Linked DNA regions of Homo sapiens: region 2 is linked to region 1. Evidence: fine-mapped expression QTL. A gene starts in region 1. The other region holds a variant in brackets. All regions are shown on one strand. Distances are between the middles of the regions. Region 1 holds the start of GET3 (guided entry of tail-anchored proteins factor 3, ATPase). Region 2 overlaps CACNA1A (calcium voltage-gated channel subunit alpha1 A).

Region 1 (2,910 bases):
TGACGACACCAAGAATAATCTCTATGAGTGGAAGGACCTCATCTGGGGCTGTGTGCTCAGCTGACACCTGGGAACTTGAATCCCTAACTGGGGAATAGAGAGCATGTCTAGTCTGGGCCCCCCAAGTAGAAATAGGGGTATCTTTGGGTTGGGTAACCATCTCTGGGATAAAGCTCACATTTGTTGGGGACATAGCTGGCTCTGTGGAGCTGAAGTCCCCGTCTGAGAATCAGCTTACTTTTTTATTTTATTATTGTTATTATTACTTTATTTTATTTTGTTTTATTTTATTTTTTGAGACGGAGTCTCTCTCTGTCGCCCAGGCTGGAGTGCAGTGGCGTGATCTCGGCTCACTGCAACCTCCGCCTCCCGAGTTCAAGCGATTCTTCTGCCTCAACCTGGTCTCGATTCCTGACCTCGTGATCTGCCTGCCTCGGCCTCCCAAAGTGCTGGGATTACAGGCGTGAGCCAACGCGCCCAGCCTATTTTATTTATTTATTTAGAGACGGAGTTTCACTCTTTCACCCAGGCTGGAGTGGAGTGAAGTGGCGCAATCTCGGCTCGCTGCAACCTCTGCCCTCCGGGTTCAAGCGATTCTCCTGCTTCAGCCTCCTAAGTAGCTGGGATTACAGGCGCGTGCCACCACGCCCGGCTAATTTTTGTATTTTTAGTAGAGACAGGTTTTCACCATCTTGGCCAGGCTGGTCCCGAACTCTTGACCTCAGGTGATCCACCCGCCTCAACCTCCCAAAGTGGTAGGATTACAGGCGTGAGCCACCGCGCCCGGCCCGAGAATCAGCTTATTTTATGAGCTGTAGTATTCAGATGAAGTCGGGGTTATTTCTAGTCTGTAGTCTCCCTCTAAAGTTAAGAGTGTCATGGGCTGGGGTCTCCATCAAGGGCCTGGAACCCAGCTTCTGTTCCTGCTCTAAGACAGAGGTTCAAACATGAAATATGGTATACTGGAGTCTTCTCTTGAAATACAAGGAGACTTTTAGGAATTCCTTCTACGAAACGGAGCGCAATTGCAGGAATGGTGTCTGCTAGGCATGGGAGATCAGGGCGTACAGGACAAGACTCTGTGGACTCGCCCACTCTAAGCCACTATCAGCCCGGGGACCTATCGCCAACCGAGTCAATTCGTCTATGATTGGTTTGCGGCAAGAGCCAAGAGGCTCACAGCCTATTGAATAACAGAGGGGGCGGACCTGAGGTGAGGTTGGGACCTACCGTGAAGAATAGAGGGAAAATGATGGACATAAAGTTGAGCCTATGGAGTCAGGCCAAGGAGGACCGGGAATCTAACTTCACCGAAAGGGCATGGACTGGGTGTTTGGCTGGTTGCTAAGGTGAGGTTGGCGCTACCGGAACATAAGAGTGATTGGTGTAAGTAAGAAAAGACATAGCCAATGAAAGGAGAGCTGCAAGACCTAGGGCCCAATCAGTGAAAGGGAGTAGCCTAGACCGTACCGATGTGTTCATTAGGTAGGGGGAACCCTTGGAAAATTATAGACCAGAGGTTGACAAAGTGAACCCTGGAAGCAAAGAATAGTGAAAATATAATTTATATTTCTCCTAAAAGGCAAGTAATGAGGAAATTAACTCATGCTCCTAGCTTCGCTAGGAATGTGATAGAGAATTTCCCCTGTAGGTTCTTCGTATGGTGCGCTCCGCTGGATCACGTGAGCCAGTTCCAAAATGGCGGCAGGGGTGGCCGGGTGGGGGGTTGAGGCAGAGGAGTTCGAAGATGCTCCTGATGTGGAGCCGCTGGAGCCTACACTTAGCAACATCATCGAGCAGCGCAGCCTGAAGTGGATCTTCGTCGGGGGCAAGGGTGGTGTGGGCAAGACCACCTGCAGGTAAGGAGGCTGCGGCGGGGGCCAGGAGGCGTGTAGGATATACCACTGGGCGAAGGGGAGGCCAAGGACCGGCTTTTCCACCACGACCGGGGCATGGGGGCTGGCGGGGGTCTTTGGGTTTCACTCTCTGGAAGTTACCTGGAGCAAATGAGAAAGACCTCAATGCAGCCCTAGCACCCTCTGAGTTGGACCATCCGTGTTGGGGCTCAAGTGCCGAACCACAGTGAACTCAGCGCCCGGGGGACGGGGAAGCACTTAGATATCCCCATCAGCTGGACCGTACCTGAGTGAATCCAGAGTTGTGGGTGAGGGCGGCACCAGAACAAGCAATCCTAGTTTGGTGAACCTTGGTGTTTTATGCCCAAGGCGAGAGTGAGGGTGGAAAGCGAGGGAGAGAGCACGTGATGAGACTGTCCCAGGCAGCTACAGGCAGGAGGTGTCCGTTGGACAGATTATCCTGGACAAGCAGACTGAACCATCCTGTGCTTACTAGGGAATGCAGGAGACCCCTTAGCTTATTAAGGAAGGGGGCACGGAGTCAAGCTATGCTGGCTGGACCGCTGGGCCATGCCACTGTGCCCAGCAAAAAAGAAGCAGGCACTAGGCCAGACAGACTCAGTCAGCTGAACCTTACCTCTCTAGTCCACATAGAGGGGTCAGGAGATAAATCAGAGAGGGTTCCTTTGTAGGGACTGAGGCTCAATCCCACCATAACCCATACTCTCCTCTCAAGGCCCCTGCTGATTCGGGTCACCTGCTCCAGGGAACCTACCACTCCCCTTGCAGACCCAGGGAACAGAGCCCATCCCCTCATCCCCTATCTTTTGACTTTTCCATTACTCAGCTGCAGCCTGGCAGTCCAGCTCTCCAAGGGGCGTGAGAGTGTTCTGATCATCTCCACAGACCCAGCACACAACATCTCAGATGCTTTTGACCAGAAGTTCTCAAAGGTGCCTACCAAGGTCAAAGGCTATGACAACCTCTTTGCTATGGTGAGTGGAACAGGGCTTAGCCCCCACTTCTGGGAAAAGCCTCTTCCAGCCTTTCTTGT
Region 2 (2,910 bases), 510 kb after region 1:
ATAAGTAGCATCTCCACCAAATGAAAGCCACTGTTTTGGAGGAAAAAGGTCCATTAGTAGGATCCCTTTCCTAGCATTTATTTATTTATTTTGATACAGGGTCTTGCTCTGTCACCCAGGGTGGGGTGCAGCGGCTCAATCACGACTCACTGCAGCCCTGACATCCTGGGCTGAATCCATCCTCTCACCTCAGCCTCCTAAGTAGATGGGACTGCAGGTGCACGCCACCACACCAGGCTAATTTTGTACTTTTTGTAGAGACAGAATCTCACTATGTTGTCCAGGTTGGTCTCAGACTCCTGGGCTCAAGCGATCCACCTGCCTCAGCCTCCCAAAGTGCTGCGATTACAGGTGTCAGCCACCGTGCCTGGCCCCTAGCATTTATTGAGTGCCCATGCCAGGCCAGGCTTCATCCTCAACCCTCTAGATGCACGTTAGTCCATTTGCTGTTTACCAGGGCTCTGCTGAGGTGGAGGGGGAGGATGGCTCCTTTTAATGATGGGGAGGTGACAAAGCTTATATAGGACGAGGCAAGATCTGAACTCTGGTGCTAAAGCTGATGCCCCTAACCACCTCCGTGAGCCAAGGTGGGAACCTGGTTTCCTGAGACCCTGGCTGAGACCCAGACTGTAGGTCACTCTCTTCAAAGGGATGGACTAAGCTGGTGGTCAAGAGAACAGATGTCCTGGTTCAAGTCCCACCTTGGCCACTCACTGGGGACCTTCAAGAATTCACTTCACTTCAAGTCCCAGCCCACTAGTATAAGCCTTCTTCACCTTAATTTTTTTTTTTTTTTGAGACAAAGTCTCACTCTGTCACCCAGGCTGGAGTGCACTGGTGCCATCTTGGCTCACTGCAACCTCCGCCTCACAGGTTCAAGCGATGCTTGGGCCTCAGCCTCACGAGTAGCTGGGATTACAGGCACACGCCACCATGCCTGGCTAATTTTTGTATTTTTAGTAGAGACGGGGTTTCACCATGTTGTCCAGGCTGGTCTTGAACTCCTGACCTCAAGGGATCTGCCCTCCTCAAGCTCCCAAACTGCCGGGATTACAGGTGTGAGCCATCACACTCAGCCCCCAATTTTTTAAAAAATAATTTTAATTTAATTTAATTTAATTTATTTATTTATTGAGATGGAGTCTCACTCTGTCACCCAGGCTGGAGTGCAGTGGCAAGATCTCGGCTCACTGCAACCTCCGCCTCCCACGTTCAAATGATTCTCCTGCCTCAGCCTCCCGAGTAGCTGAGACTACAGGCATGCGCCACCACACCCAGCTAATTTTTGTACTTTTTAGTAGAGATGGGGTTTCACCATGTTGGCAAGGGTGGTCTGGATCTCTTGACCTCATGATCCACCCACCTCTGTCTCCCAAAGTGTTGGGATTACAGGTGTGAGCCACCGCACTCAGCCAACTATACTTTTGTGTGTGTGCTATGAACCTTGGCCATGTGAGAATAGTGCTGGCTATTTTATTTTATGCATAAAGGCTTGTAAATGCATAACAAAATAGCAAGGGCTTCAAGGTTACCTTTTGTAATAAAATAGCTATCAAAATATTTTTTAAGGCTAGGCACAGTGTCTCATGCCTGTAATCCCAGCATTTTGGGAGGCTGAAGCAGGCAGATTGCTTGATGCCAGGAGTTC[G/A]AGACCAGCCTGGCCAACATGGTGAAACCCCGTCTCTACTAAAAATATAAAAATTAGCCTGGCATGCTGGTGTGCATCTGTAGTCCCAGCTACTCAGAAGGCTGAGATGGGAGAATCGCTTGAACCCAGGAGGTGGAGGTTTCAGTGAGCCAAGATTGTGCCACGGTACTCCAGCTTGGGCAACAGAGCAAGACTGTGTCTCAAAAAAAAAAAAAAAGTTTTAAAAATGGCGATCTAACAATGAATATACTTCTCCATTAACACACTGAGTAGGCCGGGTGCGGTGGCTCCCGCCTGTAATCCCAGCACTTTGGGAGGCCGAGGCGGGCGGATCATGAGGTCAGGAAATCAAGACCATCCTGGCCAACATGGTGAAACCCCATCTCTACTAAAAATACAAACAATTAGCCAGGTGTGGTGGCAGGCACCTGTAGTCCCAGCTACTCGGGAGGCTGAGGCAGGAGAATGGCGTGAACCCAGGGGGTGGAGCTTTCAGTGAGCCGAGATTGCGCCACTGCACTCCAGCCTGGGCAACAGCGAGACTGTCTCAAACAAAACAAAACAGAACAACAACAAAAAAACACTGAGTAACAAATTCTAGCTGTAGGTTTAATCACAAGCAACATTTTAAAGCAATGATGAATGCAAATTAAATGTTAAGGTATCTGCAGCTCTTATAATGCAGTATGAAAATATCTGATGTTTATAAGTGACACAGGTCATGTTGATAATATTAAGGGTTGATAATACTAATACTAAGGGTTTGTTATCTCCCTTTAAGATGGAAGGAAATGTTAAAATTTAGTTAGTGGCTGGTGAAAAATAAAGACATATTTATTTTTATTATTATTATTTTTTTGAGACTTGCTCTGTTGCTCAGGCTGGAGTGCAGTGGTGTGATCTCAGCTCACTGTAACCTCCACTTTGTGGGTTCAAGCGATTCTCCTGCCTCAGCCTCCTGAGTAGCTGGGATCATGGGCACCCACAAGCACGCCAGGCTAATTTTTTGTAGTTTTAGTAGAGATGGGGTTTTGCCATGTTGGCCAGGGTGGTCTCGAACTCCTAGGCTCAAGTGATTTGCCTGCCTCTGCCTCCCAAAGTGCTGGGATTACAGGTGTGAGTCACTGTGCCTGACCTCTGTGTTTGTTTTTTAAAGATGGAGTCTTGCTGTTGCCCAGGCTGGGGTGCAGTGGCATGATCATAGCTCACTGCAACCTCCACCTCCTGGGCTCAAAATATCTTCCCACCTCAGCCTCCTGAGT

Evidence for each region. PIP is the estimated chance that this variant, and not a neighbour inherited with it, causes the effect.
Region 2: its variant is the best candidate, but not a certain one, in a credible set for the expression of GET3 in stomach (GTEx, PIP 0.62).

The regions. Positions count from the first base shown.
Region 1 is chr19:12,735,808-12,738,717 of GRCh38, forward strand. It overlaps GET3 (guided entry of tail-anchored proteins factor 3, ATPase), which reads left to right and starts at 1,690. Exons shown (of 7, transcript NM_004317.4): 1 at 1,690-1,859; 2 at 2,704-2,851. The coding sequence starts at 1,699. RefSeq lists a cis regulatory region at 1,044-1,901, a silencer at 1,126-1,225 and enhancers at 1,238-1,833, 1,616-1,675, 1,796-1,855.
Region 2 is chr19:13,249,282-13,252,191 of GRCh38, forward strand. The region is part of intron 30 of CACNA1A (calcium voltage-gated channel subunit alpha1 A); the gene reads right to left. Among named protein-coding and RNA genes, the nearest start is that of IER2, 100 kb to the left of the region's middle. The variant G/A (reference allele first, on the strand shown) is at 1,649.